Linked DNA regions of Homo sapiens: region 1 is linked to region 2. A link means that fine-mapping ties the variant in region 2 to the plasma level of a protein whose gene starts in the linked region. Region 2 holds a variant in brackets. A gene starts in the other region. All regions are shown on their forward strands. Region 1 holds the start of KLRB1 (killer cell lectin like receptor B1). Region 2 overlaps TERT (telomerase reverse transcriptase).

Evidence for each region. PIP is the chance, under the fine-mapping model, that this variant and not a neighbour inherited with it causes the effect. The UK Biobank Pharma Proteomics Project read protein levels with antibody pairs (Olink). The fine-mapping took linkage between variants from a reference panel, not from the people measured, so its PIPs are less certain.
Region 1: KLRB1 starts here. The variant in region 2 is fine-mapped to the plasma level of the KLRB1 protein (UK Biobank, PIP above 0.99).

What each region holds. Positions count from the first base shown.
Region 1 is chr12:9,602,360-9,614,832 of GRCh38, forward strand. It overlaps KLRB1 (killer cell lectin like receptor B1), which reads right to left and starts at 5,557. Exons shown (of 6, transcript NM_002258.3): 1 at 5,396-5,557. The coding sequence starts at 5,480.
Region 2 is chr5:1,282,843-1,292,733 of GRCh38, forward strand. All of the region lies in intron 2 of TERT (telomerase reverse transcriptase), which reads right to left. Among named protein-coding and RNA genes, the nearest start is that of TERT, 7.3 kb to the right of the region's middle. RefSeq lists enhancers at 3,632-4,878, 7,652-8,403, 8,404-9,154. The variant G/A (reference allele first, on the strand shown) is at 4,237.

The DNA.
Region 1 (12,473 bases), not on the chromosome of region 2:
CGCAACTTTATCAATGTATTTTGCTCTGTATCTTTGAAAACATGAATTAATAGAAAAAAAATAAAGAGAGATTTATAAAAATATTTTGGAGAAACACTGGGATATAGCTTCCAAAATTAAATCAACTCTGATAAGGAATTATTCTGGTAGTATATTGCTCAGTTACACTGCTAGAAGTTGTGCCTAAATAGCTCCCCTATCTCTGATTTAATTGTAAGTCTCCCTCTGCTCTCATTTGGTTTTTAACATATTAGATATATTATAATTATAAATTACTTTATAAATTCTATTATTAGAGCTAGGAGCTTTTATGAATAAAGGCTTTCTAATTTATCTGAAGCTATTGATTTATTTGTATTGTCTATTCCTTTTTATTTTTTCTAATATTATTCCATGTAAGTGATTACTTGCTATGAGTTACATGTTAAAAAATTTAGCATCAGATATACTATAATATTATCCTTTAGTCTCTTTATATGTTTCAGAACGGCCATGAAGCCATTTCTACTTTTAATGGTACAGTATCCTTGAGGATTAAGTTGTGCAGTCCAGTTTGCAGACCTGATAATCTCTCACATTAGGATGCTCACACTGATATAAGTGAATCAGCTCTCTCTAAAACGGCCCTGAGGAGATAGAATTTAGTAGCGTTAGATGTGATCAAAGATTATGGGAGGAACCATAATACACTGGGGTCAGGGTTGTAACATATGGATTATCGTCTGGTACTATTTAGGACATGCTGTATCAGTGGAGGGGGGCAGGGAGGAGTAGATACCTAGAGGAGACTCCAAGGCCCCAGGGATATATCTGAATGTGAGGAAACCAAGCTTGGTAATATTGGCCTAGAACTTCTAATGAGAGCTGGTGTGATACAAGAATGTCTACATGCAGTCAATAAGCCCAAGACAGCACTGGCATGGCTTTCCTTCCAGTTTTATATATGTACGTTATTTCACCTTTCTGTCTCTTCTCTTCCCCACCGTTTTCTTCCTTGAAACTCTAAGTTTGTTTGTCTAGTGGAGAAAGCTCTGTATAGTCACTATTTTAAGTGTTAACTTAATTCTATTTATTTATTTATTTATTTTTGAGACGGAGTTTCACTCTTGTTGCCCAGGCTCATGGTGCAATCTCAGCTCACCGCAACCTCCGCCTCCCAGGTTCAAGCAATTCTCTTGCCTCAACCTCCCGAGTAGCTGGGATTACAGGCATGCGCCACCATGCCCGGCTAATTTTGTATTTTTTTTTTTTTTTTTTAGTAGAGACGGGTTTCTCCATGTTGGTCAGGCTGGTCTCGAACTCCCAACCTCAGGTGATCCACCCGCCTCAGCCTCCCAAAGTGCTGGGATTACATACGTGAGCCACCGCACCCAGCCTAATTCTATTACTAACATGAATTTAGTAATTTTCATTACTAAAGGCTAACATTGATTAAGAACAGTCTTTCCGATCTAGCAAATCTGAATGTGAACATGTTATTTTGGAAAATACGTTCAACCTTCATAACCCACAGATTTCCTCATCTGTGAAATGTGGAATATTATCTATGTCATAATATTTTGGAGAGGATTATATGAAACAATTCTTCTAAATGCTGGGCACAGTGTCTGGCACATGGTAACTGTTCAATGAACAGCAGTTCTTTTTTTCTAAAAGTTGTTTTTTTTTTTTAACTATAGGTAAAAGGCAACTTGGTGACTTTTAAAAATCGTTATTCATTCATGCTAAAATGTAAGGAGTTGAGTGGAGTGTACTGTGTCTGGGAGGAATGTACTCCTGTACTGTGTTTCTGTGGCACCACGTGACATTAGAATTAATGAAGTTACAATGAATCACTACAGGGGTCCGGCGGACGTTAGCTATCTGGAAATACCTACCTATGGCTGTTCTCCATTTGAGTTTAAAAAGTATGTGAAATCATCTCATTTCATTATTCTAAACCTTCCAATGGCTTTTCATCAGGCAAATCTGAGTCTGTAGAATGGCTCATATGTCCCTATTTAAGCTGGCGCCCACTTCTGTTGGATGTTATCACTCACATCTCTCTGGTTTTGTTGACTGCCTTAGACACAATCACCATGCTACAGAGTGACCATAGCCTCAACAGTTTAGCCAGAGTCCAATAGTGGTTTCACATTTTGCCCTCACCCCATCTGGCCTCCATACGCTCACTCTCCACGCAGATGCCTCCTACAATACCACAGGCGTGTTTTCATTTCGATGTGTTTGCACTTGTTGGTCACCTTCCTAGAAGGCTTCTCTCTCAGGGGCTTATGTCTTTGTCCCTCACTTCTGTCAGGTTTTGACTCAATGTCATCTTCTCAGGGAGGCCTTCCTTGATTATTCTGTTTGATATGCTACCCTCCCCGAAAGTTAAATCCTATATTCAAATCTTTCTCAATAACATTAACACCGTCTCATCTTTTATACTGACTTAGTTATTTGTTTATTTTATTGATGGTGTGCCTCCATTTTTTTAATTTTTATTTTTTATTATACTTTAAGTTCTAGGGTACATGGGCACAATGTGCAGGTTTGTTACATATGTATACATGTGCCATGTTGGTTTGTTGCACCCGTTAACTCGTCATTTACATTAGGTATTTCTCCTAGTGCTATCCCTTCTCCCTACCCCCACCCCACAACAGGCCCTGGTGTGTGATGTTCCCTGCCCTGTGTCCATGTGTTCTCATTGTTCAATTCCCACTATGAGTGAGAATATGCGGTGTTTGGCTTTCTGTCCTTGTGATAGTTTGCTCAGAATGATGGTTTCCAGCCTCATCCATGTCCCTACAAAGGACATGAAATCATCCTTTTTTATGGCTGCACAGTATTCCATGGTGTATATGTGCCACATTTTCTCAATCCAGTCTATCAATGATGGACATTTGGGTTGGTTCCAAGTCTTTGCTATTGTGAATGCTGCCGCAATAAACATACGTGTGCATGTGTCTTTATAGCAGCATGATTTATTATCCTTTGAGTATATACCCAGTAGTGGGATCACTGGGTCAAATGGTATTTCTAGCTCTAGATCCTTAAGGAATCGCCATACTGTCTTCCACAAGTGTGCCTCTATTTTACTATAAACTCTATGAAGGAAAATAATTTTCTCTATTTTGTTCACTGCTGTATTCACAGCATGCCTGGTGCAGAGTAGGAGCTTATTTTTTAATGAATGAATAAACTCTAGGGGCATTTTTGCAAACACCTTATCCACTTTTCTAACAGACCAAACCCTTGGCCATTTGGCCATAAGCAAGATCGGTTATCACTCACATCTCTCCTTCTGGTTTTGTTGACTGCCTTAGACACAATCACCGTGCTTGCTACAGAGTGACCACAGCCTCAGCAGTTTAGCCAGAGACCAATAGTGGTTTTACTGTCATTCAATATCAGACCAGTGTTCTATAGTCACATATTTTGCTCTGGCTTTATTCTACTCTTATTTTTTCTTCAGGTTTACTCTCAGAATGACATTTTATAGGATAATTATTACAATCCAAGTAGAAAAAATTTCTGCATCCATTGGTTTGGGATCATAGCAACATTTGGGAAGAGTCTCACTACCTCTATATTCATTTTCTGACAAAAGCCCACTTTCCACCTTTTGCTAGATATGAATAGAGGAAAAGAAAGACTTACTCTTTTCTTTAAAAAAAAATGTTACTCAACCAAATCCTCCCTATAGTTATTAGAACCCTCTGATTTCCTCTACTCTTATGTGAAAATTATACTGAAACTTAATTGACGGCTCTAAGACTTTCTTCTTGACTTAAAACTTTGAGAATTCAATAGTTTAAAACTTAAACAGTCTTAAAACAGCACAAGTCAAATGCTTGGCATGACATGGAATGAATATCAGATTGGTAAACAATTGTAATATTATCAATGATAGTAAATTCAGTTAGATATCAGAAAATAATAATGTGTCATAATAATTTCATGCTGATTTTCTGCCTCAGTTTCTAGTTTCTTCCCATCCATCCACAGGCCATGCTATCCATCATGTGTTACCTCACATTGGTGTTCCCCGCTTCTTTCACTCAGAATGCTAACTCTTCAGAGACACAGGAAAGTGCCAGTTTCAACAAATGGTAAGTAGGTTCGTTACTGATATGCTCGAGTATTTTTGTGGCTTGTCTCTTTCTAAGCTGTGATACTTTTCAAACTAGAAACTATCAGGTAGTAATGATATTCAAATCTTTGATCTTGAATATGATTTTTTTTCCAGAAAGTGTTCCCCTCTCTTGAGAGAGTGAAGTATGTTACTCATTAAGCCTACACTTTATATATATATATATAAAATATATAAAATATATGTATAAAAAGTATATATATATATATAAAATATATAAAATATATGTATAAAAAGTATATATATATATATATATATATATATTTTTTTTTTTTTTTTGAGATAGTCTTGCTGTGTCACCCAGGCTGGAGTACAGTGGCACAATTACAGCTCACTGCAGCCTTGATCTCTTGGGCTCAAGCAATCCTCTCACCTCAGCCTCCCGAGTAGCTAGGACCACAGGCACGTGCCCCACACTTGGCTATTTTTTTGTATTGTTTGTAGAGATGAGGTTTTGCCACATTGCCCAGGCTGGCCTTAAACTCCTGGACTCAAGCAAATCACCTTAGCCTACCAAAGTGTTGGGATTACAGGCATGAGCCACTGCAACTGGCCTACACGTTGTATTCTGAAAGGAATATTATGGATGAAAATGCACTGGGACTTAATCATAGTATTGATATTTTGTAGAGGAATTTGGAATAACGTAGGTTGTTATTACAGCAAGTTTGCAATGTGTCTTAAATATTCCTTAGTTCATACATGTAAAATATTTTTCCTTCCTTCCTTCCATCCTTCCTTCCTTCCTCCTTCTCTTTTTCTTTCTTTCCTTTCCTTTCTCTCTCTTTCTTTTTCTTTCTCTCCTTTCTTTCTTTCTTCTTTTCTTTCTCTTTCTTTCCTTTCTTTCTTTCTTTCTTCCTTTCTTTCTTTCTTTCTTTCTTTCTTTCTTTCTTTCTTTCTTTCTTTCTTTTCTTTCTTTCTTTCTTTCTTCCTTCTTTCCATCCCTGTAGAGCAGGGGTAACCAATAGGCAGTGTGCCCAGGGTAGCCTAAAGTGTTCAGAGTCTTTTAACCAAGGCTCAGTAAGACAAGTGATGTTTGCTTTTCATGCTAACTTGATTGAAAAAAATAAATGTATGAGGTTTAAATTTTTTTTCCCAAAGTTGTGATTATCTACAGGCAAGCCATGCAACACCCGTTAAACATTAATATAAAACTACTGCTCATCTTTAAAGCAATGATTTAAAGCCATAAATGTAACAGGAAGATCTAATTCTGGAAGACATACAAATGCCGAAAGGAAAATTAAAGCCACTTACCCCGAGGAAGAGATGAAGGTGAAGAACTTTCTGGGCCTGAGTCTGTGGGTAAGTTTAACTCAGCATATATTGCTTGTTGGTCCATGGCAGACAGAGGAAGGTGGCATTAAACTTGTGTGTAAGAACAAACTCTCAATTCTGTGAGGCAAAATCAGCAAAAGGAAGCTTTCTGCCTGCAGTACTTTGTTGTCTCTCTTTTGTCCCCACCCACATACACTTTTTGTTGGTGGTTATCTCCATAAATTACTGAGACAATCCACTGACTGCATGTTCATTATACCTAGCTATGTAATATCTACTTTCCTTAATTAACTGGCCTGTTGTTTGAGAAAATTCTGGGAGGCTCATTTGTTCTTGTTTTTCTAACCATCCCTTTTGTGTTCCTCTCTCAGGGCCAGGACCAGAGTGAAGCAAATGAGGCATAGCCTGGGGTTCCAATTTAAGGGGCCCCCAACAAAACTCACTAATTAACAGAAATAATATTTAGCACAATTTTGTAAAAGTAAAAATTAATGCAAAAAAGTCCATAATGCTATTCAAAGGCTCTAAAATCTTCCTGAAATATCTGTGCTCCAAAGAAAGTTGTGAAATGTGAAAAATGGAAACATAAATGTGAGAAAGCCCCCTGAATAACACAACAGAAAAAGCAATGTGCTAAAGATCAGTAGCCTACTGTTAGCTTAGCTCTAAAGGCACTCTTGGATATGATAGCATTTTCACATAAGTAAAAGTATTTGGAAACTGCCAGAATTGTAGGAAGTGGAGTATATGGAATTTTTTATCTCTTTGAAAGACTTTCTTTTTTTTTCAAGGTGATTATAGTATGTGTCTACTTTTTTTTTTTTACCTTTTTTTATTATTATTATACTTTAAGTTCACAATGTACAGGTTTGTTACATATGTATACATGTGCCATGTTGGTGTGCTGCACCCGTTAACTTGTCATTTACATTAGGTATATCTCCTAATGCTATCCCTCCCCCCTCCCCCCACCCCACGACAGGCCCCGGTGTGTGGTGTTCCCCTCCCTGTGTCCAAATATTCTCATTGTTCAATTCCAACCTATGAGTGAGAACATGCGGTGTTTGGTTTTCTGTCCTTGCAATAGTTTGCTCAGAATGATGGTTTCCAGCTTCATCCATGTCCCTACAAAGGACATGAACTCATCCTTTTTTATGGCTGCATACTATTCCATGGTGCATATGTGCCATATATTCTTAATCCAGTCTATCATTGATAGACATTTGGGATGGTTCACGAGTCTTTGCTATTGTGAATAGTGCCACAATAAACATATGTGTGCATGTGTCTTTATAGCAGCGTGATTTATAATCCTTTGGGTATATACCCAGTAATGAGATGGCTGGGTCAAATTCTAGTTCTAGTCCCTCGAGGAATCGCCACACTGTCTTCCACAATGGTTGAACTAGTTTAGAGTCCCACCAACAGTGTAAAAGTGTTCCTATTTCTCCACATCCTCTCCAGCACCTGTTTTTTCCTGACTTTTTAATGACTGTCATTCTAACTGGTGTGAGATGGTATCTCATTGTGGTTTAGATTTGCATTTCTCTGATGGCCAGTGATGATGAGCATTTTTTCATGTGTCTGTTGCCTGCATAAATGTTTTCTTTTGAGAAGTGTCTGTTCATATCCTTTGCCCATTTTTTGATGGGGTTGGTTGATTTTTTCTTGTAAATTTATGTAAGTTCTTTGTAGATTCTGGATATTAGCCGTTTGTCAGATGGGTAGATTGTAAAAATTTTCTCCCATTCTGTAGGTTGTCTGTTCACTCTGATGGTAGTTTCTTTTGCTGTGCAGAAGCTCTTTAATTTAGTTAGATCCCATTGGTCAATTTTGGCTTTTGTTGCCATTGTTATTGGTGTTTTAGTCATGAAGTCCTTCCCATGCCTGTTGCCTGAATGGTATTGCCTAGGTTTTCTTCTAGGGTTTTTATGGTTTTAGATCTAACATTTAAGTTTTTAATCCATCTTGAATTAATTTTTTATAAGGTGTAAGGAAGGGATCCAGTTTCAGCTTTCTATATATGGCTAGCCAGTTTTCCCAGCACCATTTATTAAATAGGGAATCCTTTCCCCATTTCTCGTTTTTGTCAGATTTGTCAAAGATCAGATGGTTGTAGATATGTGGTATTATTTCCGGGGGCTCTGTTCTGTTCCATTGGTCTATATCTCTGTTTTGGTACCAGTACCATGTTGTTTTGGTTGCTGTTGCCTTGGAGTATAGTTTGAAGTCAGGTAGCGTGATGCCTCCAGCTTTGTTCTTTTGACTTAGGTTTGTCTTGGCAATGTGGGACCTTTTTTGGTTCCATATGAACTTTAAAGTAGTTTTTTCCAATTCTGTGAAGAAAGTCATTGGTAGCTTGATGGGGATGGCATTGAATCTATAAATTACCTTGGGCAGTATGGCCATATTCACAATACTGATTCTTCCTATCCGTAAGCATAGAATGATCTTCCATTTATTTGTGTCCTCTTTTATTTCATTGAGCAGTGGTTTGTATTTCTCCTTGAAGAGGTCCTTCACCTCTTTCAAAGATTTTCAGGCATAGAACCTTAGAGCAAGACCTTAGGTGGATTGGGTTCCAAGATGGCCAAATAGGAACAGCTCCAGTCTATAGCTCCCAGCGTGAGCGACACAGAAGATTGGTGATTTCTGCATTTCCAACTGAGGTACTGGGTTCATCTCACTGGGGCTTGGCAGACAGTGGGGACAGCCCATGGTGCAGGGTGGGGCATTGCCTCACCAAGGAAGCGCAAGGGATTGGGGAATTCCCTTTCCTAGCCAAGGGAAGCTATGACAGACGGTACCTGGAAAATCAGGACACTCCCACCCTAATACTGCACTTTTCCAATGGTCTTAGCAAATGGCACACCAGGAGATTATATCCCATGCCTGGCTCGGAGGGTCCCATGCCCACAGAGCCTTGCTCACTGCTAGCACATCAGTCTGAGATCAAACTGCAAGGTGGCAGCGAGGCTACGGGAGGGGCATCCACCATTGCTGAGGCTTGAGCAGGTAAACAAAGCTGCCAGGAAGCTCAAACTGGGTGGAGCCCACTGCAGCTCAAGGAGGCCTGCCTGCCTCTGTCGACTCCACCTCTGAGGGCAGGGCATAGCTGAACAAAATGCAGAAGAAACTTCTGCAGACTTAAACATCCCTGTCTGACAGCGTGGGAGAGAGTAGTGGTTCTCTGAGCATGGAGTTTGAGATCTGAGAACAGACAGACTGCCTCCTCTAGTGGGTCCCTGAGCCCGAGTAGCCTAACTGGGAGACACCTCCCAGTAGGAGCTGACTGACACCTCATACAGCCAGGTGTCCCTCTGAGATGAAGCTTCCAGAGGAAGGATCAGGCAGCAACATTTGCCGTACTGCAATATTTGCTGTTCTGCAGTCTCCACTGGTGATACCCAGGCAAACAGGGACTGGAGTGCACCTCCAGCAGCCTCCAGCAGACCTGCAGCTGAGGGTCCTGACTGTAAGAAGGAAAACGAACAAACAGAAAGGACATCCAAACCAAAACACCATCTGTGTGTCACCATCATCAAAGACCAATGGTAGATAAAATCACAAAGATGGGGAGAAACCAGAGCAGAAAAGCCAAAAATTCTAAAAATCAGAGTGCCTCTTCTCCTCAAAAGGAATGCAGCTCCTCACCAGCAACAGAACAAAGCTGCATGGAGAATGACTTTGATGAGTTGAGAGAAGATGGCTTCAGGCGATTGGTAATAACAAACTTCTCCGAGCTAAAGGAGGAGTTCGAACCCATCGCAAAGAAGCTAAAAACCTTGAAAAAAGATTAGACAAATGGCTAACTAGAATAAACAGTGTAGAGAAGACCTTAAACGACCTGATGGAGCTGAAAACCATGGCACGAGAACTACATGATGCATGCACAAGATTCAGTAGCCAATTTGATCAAGTGGAAGAAAGGGTGTCAGGGATTGAAGATCAAATGAATGAAATGAAGCCAGAAGAGAAGTTTAGAGAAAAAAGAGTAAAAAGAAATGAATGAAGCCTCCAAGAAATGTGGGACTATGTGAAAAGACCAAATCTATGTCTGACTGGTGTACCTGAAAGTGATGGGAAGAATGGAACCAAGTTGGAAAACACTCTTCAGGATATTATCCAGAACTTCCCCAACATAGCAAGGCAGGCCAACATTCAAATTCAGGAAATACAGAGAATACCACAAAGATAATCGTCAAGAAGAGCAACTCTAAGACACATAATTTTCAGATTCATCAAAGTTGAAATGAAGGAAAAAATGTTAAGGGCAGCCAGAGAGAAAGGTCAGGTTACCCACAAAGGGAAGCCCATCAGACTAACAGCGGATCTCTCGGCAGAAACTCTACAAGCCAGAAGAGAGTGGGGGCCAATATTCAACATTCTTAAAGAAAAGAATTTCATATCAACCCTGAATTTCATATCCAGCCAAACTAAGCTTCATAAGTGAAGGAGAAATAAAATCCTTTACAGACAAACAAATGCTGAAAGATTTTGTCACCACCAGGCCTGCCTTACAAGAGCTCCTGAAGGAAGCCGTAAACATGGAAAGGAACAACCAGGACCAGCCACTGCAAAAACATGCCAAGTTGTAAAGACCGTTAATGCTAGGAAGAAACTGCATCAACTAATGAGCAAAATAACCAGCTAACATCATAATGACAGGATCAAATTCACACATAACAGTATTAACCTTAAATGTAAATGGGCTAAATGCTCCAATTAAAAGACACAGACTGGCAAATTGGATAAAGAGTCAAGACCCATCATTGTGCTGTGTTCAGGAGATCCATTTACCTGCAGAGACACACATAGGCTCAAAATAAAGGGATGGAGGAAGATCTACCAATCAAATGGAAAACAGAAAAAAGCAAGGGTTGCAATCCTAGTCTCTGATAAAACAGACTTTAAACCAACAAAGATCAAAAGAGACAAAGAAGGCCATTACATAATGGTAAAGCGATCAATTCAACAAGAAGAGCTAACTATCATAAATATATATGCACCCAAAAACAGGAGCACCCAGATTCATAAAGCAAGCCCTTAGAGACCTACAAAGAGACTTAGACTCCCACACAATAATAATGGGAGACTTTAACACCCCACTGTCAACATTAGACAGATCAATGAGACAGAAAGTTAACAAGGATATCCAGGAATTGAACTCAGCTCTGCACCAAGCAGAACTAATAGACATCTACAGAACTCTCCGCCTCAAATAAACAGAATATACATTCTTCTCAGCACCACATCGCACTTATTCCAAAATTGACCACATAGTTGGAAGTAAAGCACTCTTTAGCAAATGTAAAAGAACAGAAATTATAACAAACTGTCTCTCAGACCACAGGGCAAACTAGAACTCAGGATTAAGAAACTCGCTCAACTACATGGAAACTGAACGACCTGCTCCTGAATGACTACTGGGTACACAACGAAATGAAGGCAGAAATAAAGATGTTCTTTGAAACCAAGGAGAACAAAGACACAACATACCGGAATCTCTGGGACACATTTAAAGCAATGTGTAGAGGGAAATTTATAGCACTAAATGCCCACAAGAGAAAGCAGGAAAGATCTAAAACCGACACCCTAACATCACAATTAGAAGAACTAGAGAAGCAAGAGCAAACACATTCAAAAGCTAGCAGAAGGCAAGAAATAACTAAGATCAGAGCAGAACTGAAGGAGATAGAGACACAACAAAACCCTTCAAAAAATCAATGAATCCAGGAGCTGGTTTTTTGAAAAGATCAACAAAATTGATAGACAGCTAGCAAGACTAATAAAGAAGAAAAGAGAGAAGAATCAAATAGACTCAATAAAAAATGATAAAGGGGATATCACCACTGAGCCCACAGAAATACAAACTACCATCAGAGAATACTATAAACACCTCTATGCAAATAAACTAGAAAATCTAGAAGAAATGGATAAATTCCTGGACACATACACCCTCCCAAGACTAAACCAGAAAGAAGTTGAATCCATGAATAGACCAATAACAGGCTCTAAAATTGAGGCAATAATTAATAGCCTACCAACCGAAAAAAGTCCAGGACCAGACAGATTCACAGTCACATTCTACCAGAGGTACAAAGAGGAGCTGGTACCATTCCTCCTGGAACTATTCCAATCAATAGAAAAAGAGAGAATCCTCCCTAACTCATTTCAGGAGGCCAGCATCATCCTGATACCAAAGCCTGGCAGAGACACAACAAAAAAAGAGAATTTTAGACCAATATCCCTGATGAACATCGATGCAAAAATTCTCTATAAAATACTGGCACACCAAATCCAGCAGCACATCAAAAAGCTTATCCACCATGATCAAGTTGGCCTCATCCCTGGGATGCAAGGCTGGTCCAACATACACAAATCGATAAACGTAATCCATCATAGAAACAGAACCAAAGACAAAAACCACATGATTATCTCAATAGATGCAGAAAAGGCCTTTGACAAAATTCAACAGCCCTTCATGCTAAAAACTCTCAATAAACTAGGTATTGATGGGACGTACCTCAAAATAATAAGAGCTATCTATGACAAACCCACAGCCAATATCATACTGAATGGGCAAAAACTGGAAGCATTCCCTTTGAAAACTGGCACAAGACAGGGATGCCCTCTCTCACCACTCCTATTTAACATAGTGTTGGAAGTTCTGGCCAGGGCAATCAGGCAGGAGAAAGAAATAAAAGGTATTCAATTAGGAAAAGAGGAAGTCAAATTGTACTGGTTTGCAGATGACATGATTGTATATTTAGAAAAGCCCATTGTCTCAGCCCAAAATCTCCTTAAGCTGATAAGCAACTTCAGCAAAGTCTCAGCATACAAAATCAATGTGCAAAAATCACAAGCATTCCTATACACCAATAACAGACAAACAGAGAGCCAAATCATGAGTGAACTCCCATTCACAATTACTTCAAAGAGAATAAAATACCTAGGAATCTAACCTACAAGGAATGTGAAGGACCTCTTCAAGGAGAACTACAAACCACTGCTCAACGAAATAAAAGAGGACACAAACAAATGGAAGAACATTCCA
Region 2 (9,891 bases):
TCACCGAGGGCCTGGCGAACTCACCCCGGACCTGCAGCATCCAGACACCACACATCCAGCTCACCGCAGGGCCTGGCGAACTCACCCCGGACCTGCACCATCCAGACAACACACATACAGCCCACCGCAGGGCCTGGCGACCTCACTCCGGACCTGCACCATCCGTACACTGCACATCCAGCTCACCGCAGGGCCTGGCGACCTCACGCCAGACCTGCACCATCCGGATACAGCACATCCAGCTCACCGCAGGGCCTGGCGACCTCACCCCGGACCTGCACCATCCGGATACAGCACATCCAGCTCACAGCAGGGCCTGGCGACCTCACCCCAGACCTGCACCATCCGGACACCACACATCCAGCTAACCGCAGGGCCTGGTGACCTCACCCCGGACCTGCACCATCCGACACCGCATATCCAGCTAACCGCAGGGCCTGGCGACCTCACGCCAGACCTGCACCATCCGGATACAGCACATCCAGCTCACTGCAGGGCCTGGCGACCTCACCCCGGACCTGCACCATCTGGATACAGCACATCCAGCTCACAGCAGGGCCTGGCGACCTCACCCCGGACCTGCACCATCCAGACACCGCACATCCAGCTAACCGCAGGGCCTGGTGACCTCACCCCGGACCTGCACCATCCGGACACCGCATATCCAGCTAACCGCAGGGCCTGGCGACCTCACCCCGGACCTGCACCATCCGGACACCCCACATCCAGCTCACCGAAGGCCTTGGCTACCTCACCCCGGACCTGCACCATCCAGACACCGCACATCCAGCTCACAGCAGGGCCTGGCGACCTCACGCCGGACCTGCACCATCCGGACACCACACATCCAGCCCACCAAGGGCCTGGCGACCTCACCCCAGACATGCACCATGCAGACACCGCACATCCAGCTCACCAAAGGCCTGGCGACCTCACCCCAGACCTGCACCATCCGGACACGGCACATCCAGCCCACCAAGGGCCTAGCGACCTCACCCTGGACCTGCACCATCCGGACACGGGGACACCGCACATCCAGCTCACCGAGGGCCTGGCGAACTCACCCCGGACCTGCAGCAACCGGACACTGCACAACCAGCTCACCGCAGGGCCTGGTGACCTCACCCCAGACCTGCACCATCCGGATACAGCACATCCAGCTCACAGCAGGGCCTGGCGACCTCACCCCGGACCTGCACCATCCGGATACAGCACATCCAGCTCACAGCAGGGCCTGGCAACCTCACCCCGGACCTGCATCATCCGGACTCCATACCTCCAGCTCACCGAGGGCCTGGCGACCACACCCCAGACCTGCACCATCCAGACGCCGCACATCCAGCTCACAGCAGGGCCTGGCGACCTCACCCCGGACCTGCATCATCCGGACTCCATACCTCCAGCTCACCGAGGGCCTGGCGACCACACCCCAGACCTGCACCATCCAGACGCCGCACATCCAGCTCACAGCAGGGCCTGGCGACCTCACCCCGGACCTGCATCATCCGGACTCCATACCTCCAGCTCACCGAGGGCCTGGAGACCTCACCCCTGACCTGCACCATCCGGACACCGCATATCCAGCTCACAGCAGGGTCTGGCGACCTCACCCCGGACCGGCACCATCCGGACTCCATACATCCAGCTCACCGAGGGCCTGGCGACCTCACTCCAGACCTGCACCATCCAGACACCGCACATCCAGCTCACCGCAGGGTCTGGCGACCTCACCCCGGACCTGCACCATCTGGACACTGCACATCCAGCTCACCGAGGGCCTGGCGACCTCACTCCAGACCTGCACCATCCAGACACCACACATCCAGCTCACAGCAGGGCCTGGCGACCTCACCCCAGACCTGCACCATCCAGACACCACACATCCAGCTCACAGCAGGGCCTGGTGACCTCACACCGGACCTGCAGCATCCGGACACCCCACATCCAACTCACAGCAGGGCCTGGCAACCTCACCCCAGACCTGCACCATCCGGACACCGCATATCCAGCTCACCGCACGGTCTGGCACCGTCTGGCGACCTCACTCCAGACCTGCACCATCCAGACACCGCACACCCAGCTCACCGCAGGGCCTGGTGACCTCACCCCAGACCTGCACCATCCAGACACCACACATCCAGCTCACAGCAGGGCCTGGCGACCTCACCCCGGACCTGCATCATCCGGACTCCATACCTCCAGCTCACCGAGGGCCTGGAGACCTCACCCCTGACCTGCACCATCCAGACACCACACATCCAGCTCACAGCAGGGCCTGGCGACCTCACCCCGGACCTGCATCATCCGGACTCCATACCTCCAGCTCACCGAGGGCCTGGAGACCTCACCCCTGACCTGCACCATCCAGACACCACACATCCAGCTCACAGCAGGGCCTGGCGACCTCATCCCAGACGTGCACCATCCGGACACTGCACATCCAGCTCACTGAGGGCCTGGCGACCTCATCCCGGACCTGCACCATCTGGTACAACAGCCATGGCCATGGGAAGCCCAGCAGGTCCAGGCCGAGATGGCCACGCACGGGACCTACACACGGGATCCCGCAGACAAAGCTCAAAAAATGTCAAATGTCCTGTGAGTGATGCTCCCACCAATAACACCCTAAAATGATGAGGTGTGGACATGCTGGGCTTCAGTAAAATCTATTATTACATTAATTTCACCTTTTCTTTTTTACTTTTTTAATGTGGCTACTAGAATTTTTTTTTTTTTTTTTTTTTTTGAGACAGAGTCTCGCTGTGTTGCCAGGCTGGAGTGCAGTGGTGCAATGTCGGCTCACTGCAACTTCCAACTCCCAGGTTCAAGCAATTCTCCTGCCTCAGCCTCCCGAGTAGCTGGGATTACAGGCACCCGCCACCACGCCCAGCTAATTTTTGTGTTTTTAGTACAGATGGGGTTTCATCATGTTGGCCAGGATGGTCTCGACCTCCTGACCTCGTGATCCACCCGCCTTGGCCTCCCAAAGTGCTGGGATTACAGGCGTGAGCCACCGCGCCCAGCCTAGAAATTTTAAAATTATCCACATGGCTCACGTCATGCTCCTGTTGGGCGACAACGGCTCGGAGCCTCATCCTTTGTCCTGGTTCCCAAGCAGAAGGGAGGAAGCAGACACTCCCCCGCCAGGCAGCACCGTCAGAGCTGGCGCCACACCGCAGGTTTGCGCGATTTCAAACTCGACACCGCGGAGCCACCAGACCCCGACATGCCTGGGGTTTTCCAGGCTGAACCCAGGCCGAGCGGACGTTGCTGTCACTCACTGGCTAAGGAACGCTGGCCACGTGGTGCTCCAGACACTCACGGGCCAAGATGACCGCCCTCCTCGTGAGTCTCCACATCTTCATCTGTGCATCATAAGCAGAGGTCCCCGGACGTCGCTAGATGCCATGGAGGCCAGCACAGGTAAAGCTGGGGTTTACCAGCAATAACAAGACAGAAGAACCACGCAAAGGACAAGGAAGGGGACCCCAGACGGCGGGCCTGAGACAGAAGACAGACGGGGAACAAAGGAGGAAAAGCAGGGCGGGGGCAAAGCTACAGAAACACTCAACACGGAAAACAATATTAATAATGCTTAGCTTGTGGGGGTGTCAAGATGCCTGAGATAGAACTAAGTCAGCAGGGAAAACAGCACACAGGCTGGGGGGTGGCCAGAGCTAAAATACACTAAGGGTCTTATTGCTCAGGACAAGGGTAGCAATGTTTCAGACTTCATTTTAAAAGATCAAGGTATGCCGGGCACGGTGGCTTGCACCTGTAATCCCAGCACTGTGGGAGGCCAAGGCGGGCAGATCACTTGAGGTCAGGAGTTTGAGACCAGCCTGGCCAACATGGTGAAAGCCTATCTCTACTAAAAATACAAAAATTAGCCAGGCGTGGTGGTGGGCGCCTGTAATCCCAGCTACTCATGAGGTTGAGGAATGAGAACTGCTTGAACCGAGGAGGCAGAGGTTGCAGTGAGCCGAGATTGTGCCATTACACTCCAGCCTGGGTGACAGAGTGAGACTGTCTCAATAAACAAAAGCAAACAACGACAATAAAAAGATCAGGGGGTAACACTAAGCAAAGAGAAATAAAAGCAAATGCCCAGTGACCAGGAGGCAACGAGAGGATCAACACACACTCGGCAGGAAACGCACATGGCAACCCAAGAGGTGGTGAGAAACAAGGGAACGAGGACATGCAACAGGCAAGTGGAGAATCAGAGTGCACCAG[G/A]CGGGTCTCTAGTGACAAAAAAATGAAAATAAATCAGGTTATCCAGTTAAACAACGACTGTCAGACTGGATTGGAAATTCACCTACATGCTGTTAACAGGACATACCCACACTATAAGAATATAAAAGTGTTGAAAATTAGGCCAGACATGGTGGCTCATGCCTGTAATTCAGCACTTTGGGAAGCCGAGGTAGATGGATCCCTTGAGTCCAAGAGTTTGAGACCAGCCTGGGCAACACAGCAAGACCCTGTCTCCAGAAAAAATTTAAAAATTAGCCAGGTGTAGCGGTGCGTGTCTGCAGTTCCAGCTATTCAGGAGGCTGAGGTGAGAGGACGGCTCAGGCCAGAAGGTAAAAGTTACACTGACCTGTGATCACACCACTGCACTCACCCTGGGCGACAGACCAAGACTCTGTCTCAAAAAAAAAAAATATATATATATATATATAAATTAAAGGCAGAAAACAGACACAGCAGGAAAATACTAATCAAAAGAAGCCCAGTGTGGCAGTACTAAGAGCAATTTAAAAAAAGAATTACTAGATTACTAGAGACATAGAAGTCTCCAAAAGATTCACTCATCAGGAAGATAAAAATTCTACCACGTGCATGCACCTAACAATGCCTCACATAAATGCTACCAAACGAGAAGAAATGAACAGACCCATCCCCCAGGTGAGGGACTATGGCCTCCTTCTTGGAATTTCATGCATCTAGAAGGAGACAGAAGCTTTGCACTGGACCTTAATAAGCTGGATATAGTGAACATGCATGCCCACTATTGACAGGATGTCAAATTTACAATGGACAGTTCTGGAAACCATGCACACACTAGATCACAAAGCAAGGCTCCGCAAACTTCAAATAATTGGTATTATACAGACCACTACACAACTGAGTTAGAAATCAATAATAAAATGATAACTTAAAATACTCTACGTATCTTGATACTCTACATATCTTGAACATAAACAGTGTTCAAATAACTCACTGCTCAAAGAAATCACAGAATAAGCTAAAGAATACTTAAAAGTCACTGATATCAAAATGATTTCACGTCAAAACACAGCGTGCACAAAGAAAAAAATCACAGAATAAGAATACTTAAAAGAAGTATTAACACTTTGAAGTATTTTAAGAACACTTGAAAGTGGCTGATGTTGAGATTACTTCACATCAAAACACAGGGTGCAGGTAAGGCAGCACTTAGAGGGAAAGGCATGACTAAACTAAGAAGCTAGAAAAGGAATGAAAGAATAAACCAAGAAAAAGCATACAATGGAGAGATAGAAACGTCAGAGGTAAATCAGTGAAATTCAAAACTAAGACCCAAGAGGGAAGTCTGACGAAGGCTGGCGGAGACACCGGCCCTCCACGTGGGTCTCAGAGCAGGAGACAGACAGAGACACTCCAACCTGTGGCTGGACGTCAATCCATGTGAGGGGGCGACTGGAGGCAGAGCCCAGCCTAAGCAATGAGCGGCAGGTGCCCAGAATAAGGTGACAAGCGTTGCCACCCACCCAAGGGGGCCAAGCAGAGGGGCAGCTTGGGAGAAAACAGGACAAGTGAGGGGGCTGGGGTGACTTGCTTTCCTTCAGGGCACAGAGAACCCTTTCTGGGATGTCTCCAGCAACACGTGGCAGCAGACACAGGCAGCCCAGAGTCCAGCCTCGGCATGAGACAAGCTGGGAGAGGAGTATTGGCAGCATGCATGTGGCGGGCACGTGGTGAGCAAGCCAGGCCCAACAGAGGCAAGCGGACCTGAAGCTGTGGCTGCAGTGCCTGGCACGCGGGAGGCGAGAGCCTGCAGTCCCGTGTCCCCGTAGCAAAATGGAACGGAGAGGTGACCAAGAAGAGCCGAGCATCAGAAAAGATAGGCTTGGGGACCAGCACTGCGCCTGCACCATCTACCCAGGCAATGGGCAACCGGCGCAGCTGTGGCTATAGAAAGAGCAAACATTCAGGAGCAAGCTCAAGTGAGCAAACGCCAAGGACACCTGGGGACAGAGCCTCACTCACCCTACACGAGACAGGGACACCCAGGGACAGCGCCTCACTCACCCTGCACCTGAGAGGGACACCCGGGGGCCGCAACTCACTCACCCTACACGTGACAGGGACACCCGGGGACGGCGCCTCACTCACCCTACACGTGACAGGGACACCCGGGGATGGCGCCTCACTCACCCTACACCTGAGAGGGACACCCAGGGACGGCGCCTCACTCACCCTACACGTGACAGAGACACCCGGGGACAGTGCCTCACTCACCCTACACGTGACAGGGACACCCGGGGACGGGGCCTCACTCACCCTGCACGTGACAGGGACACCCGGGGACGGCGCCTCACTCACCCTACACGTGACAGGGACACCCGGGGACGGCGCCTCACTCACCCTACACGTGACAGGGACACCCGGGGACGGCGCCTCACTCACCCTACACGTGACAGGGACACCCGGGGACGGCGCCTCACTCACCCTACACGTGACAGGGACACCCGGGGACGGCGCCTCACTCACCCTGCACGTGACAGGGACACGCGGGGACGGCGCCTCACTCACCCTGCACGTGACAGGGACACCCGGGGGCCTCGCGTCAATCACCCTGCACGTGACAGGGACACCCGGGGACGGCGCCTCACTCACCCTGCACGTGACAGGGACACCCGGGGACAGTGCCTCATTCACCCTACACGTGACAGGGACACCCGGGGACCGCGCCTCACTCACCCTGAACGTGACAGGGACACCCGGGGACAGTGCCTCACTCACCCTGCAAGTGACAGGGACACCCGGGGGCCGCGCCTCACTCACCCTGCACGTGACAGGGACACCCGGGGGCCGTGCCTCACTCACCCTGCACGTGACAGGGACACCCGGGGGCCGCGCCTCACTCACCCTGCACGTGACAGGGACACCCGGGGGCCGCGCCTCACTCACCCTGCACGTGACAGGGACACCCGGGGGCCGCGCCTCACTCACCCTACACGTGACAGGGACACCCGGGGGCCGCGCCTCACTCACCCTGCACGTGACAGGGACACCCGGGGGCCGCGCCTCACTCACCCTACACGTGACAGGGACACCCGGGGACAGTGCCTCACTCACCCTACACGTGACAGTGACACCCGGGGACCGCGCCTCACTCACCCTACACGTGACAGGGACACCCGGGGGCCGTGCCTCACTCACCCTGAACGTGACAGGGACACCCGGGGACGGCGCCTCACTCACCCTACACGTGACAGGGACACCCGGGGACGGCACCTCACTCACCCTACACGTGACAGGGACACCCGGGGACGGCGCCTCACTCACCCTGCACGTGACAGGGACACGCGGGGACGGCGCCTCACTCACCCTGCACGTGACAGGGACACCCGGGGGCCTCGCGTCAATCACCCTGCACGTGACAGGGACACCCGGGGACAGCGCCTCACTCACCCTGCACGTGACAGGGACACCCGGGGACGGTGCCTCACTCACCCTACACGTGACAGGGACACCCGGGGACCGCGCCTCACTCACCCTGAACGTGACAGGGACACCCGGGGACAGTGCCTCACTCACCCTACACGGGACAGGGACACCCGGGGACCGTGCCTCACTCACCCTGCACGTGACAGGGACACCCGGGGACCGCGCCTCACTCACCCTGCACGTGACAGGGACACCCGGGGACCGCGCCTCACTCACCCTGCACGTGACAGGGACACCCGGGGACCGCGCCTCACTCACCCTGCACGTGACAGGGACACCCGGGGGCCGCGCCTCACTCACCCTGCACGTGACAGGGACACCCGGGGGCCGCGCCTCACTCACCCTGCACGTGACAGGGACACCCGGGGGCCGTGCCTCACTCACCCTGCACGTGACAGGGACACCCGGGGACGGCGCCTCACTCACCCTGCACGGGACAGGGACACCTGGGGACCGCGCCTCACTCACCCTGCACGGGACAGGGACACCCGGGGACAGTGCCTCACTCACCCTACACGTGACAGGGACACCTGGGGACCGCGCCTCACTCACCCTGCACGTGACAGGGACACCCGGGGACAGTGCCTCACTCACCCTATACCTGGGAGGGACACCCAGGGACGGTGCCTCACTCACCCTACACGTGACAGGGACACCTGGGGCCGCGCCTCACTCACCCTACACCTGAGAGGGACACCCGGGGACAGCGCCTCACTCACCCTACACCTGGGAGGGACACCCAGGGACGGTGCCTCACTCACCCTACACGTGACAGGGACACCCGGGGACCGCGCCTCACTCACCCTGCACGTGACAGGGACACCCGGGGACAGCGCCTCACTCACCCTGCACGGGACAGGGACACCCGGGGACCACGCCTCACTCACCCTACACGTGACAGGGACACCCGGGGACGGCGCCTCACTCACCCTACACCTGAGAGGGACACCCGGGGACAGTGCCTCACTCACCCTACACGTGACAGGGACACCCGGGGACCGCGCCTCACTCACCCTGCACGTGACAGGGACACCCGGGGACAGTGCCTCACTCACCCTGCACGGGACAGGGACACCCGGGGGCCACACCTCAATCACGCTGCACGGGACAGGGACACCCGGGGGCCGCGCCTCACTCACCCTACACGTGACAGGGACACCTGGGGGCAACGCCTCACTCACCCTGCACGTGACAGGGACACCCGGGGACCACGCCTCACTCCCTGCATAAGCCAGGGGCAGATTGTGACCTCATCTGAAGTCAGAGAACAGCAATGACAGGCAGAGTCCTGATCAGAGAACTCAAACTCTCCTCAACGAAGGAAGCTGGAGCACAAAAAGCAAAACTGGGTTGCATGACGCTTATCTGACTCGGCGTGGTCCACCTGAGCCGCAGCAGGTGTGAGGCAGCTGCCGTTCGATGGGTAGGGACTTCCAGTCACGCAAGACGCAGCATTTCAAGCAACCTGCTGTAAACACCGCCGAGTTAGCAATTCTGCACTGTACACAGAAAACGGTGTTAGGAGTGCCAATCTCATGTTATATGACTTTTGCCACCATAAAAAGAAAAAAAGAAAAAAAAGAGCCCCAAGAAGGTCACCCTCCTTGTCTGCATGGCCGGAAGTCTTACATGTCTTGGGAGTTTGTGGGGAGGGGGTGAAATCGGGACTTCTTCTAGCTGCCACGGTAGGGCCTGGGAGCACTGGGAGCCAAAAGGGGGCTGGAGCGGAGGTTCCTCAACATCAAATCCAGAAAAACAGGGTGGGGACACGGCAGGGCCCAGCAGCACCATCCCCTGAACACCCACAAACACTGTCCCTTCCTCAGCAGGTGGAGCCATCTGCTGTCCTCTGCTCCCATGTGGCCCTCTTCATACCTAAAGATGGGACCAGGATCTGTGCTGGAGAACAGTCTTATCTCCCTCCCTCTACCCTGTCCTGGCACAATCAACGAACACTTTTTTTTTTTAAAGACAGAGTTTCACTCTTGTCGCCCAGGCTGGAGTACAATGGCACAATCTCAGCTCACTGCAGCCTCCGCCTCCTGGGTTCAAGTGATTCTCCTGCCTCAGCCTCCCAAGTAGCTGGGATTACAGGCACACACCACCATGCCCAGCTAATTTTTGTATTTTTAGTACAGATAGGGTTTCACCATGTTGGTCAGGCTGGTCTCA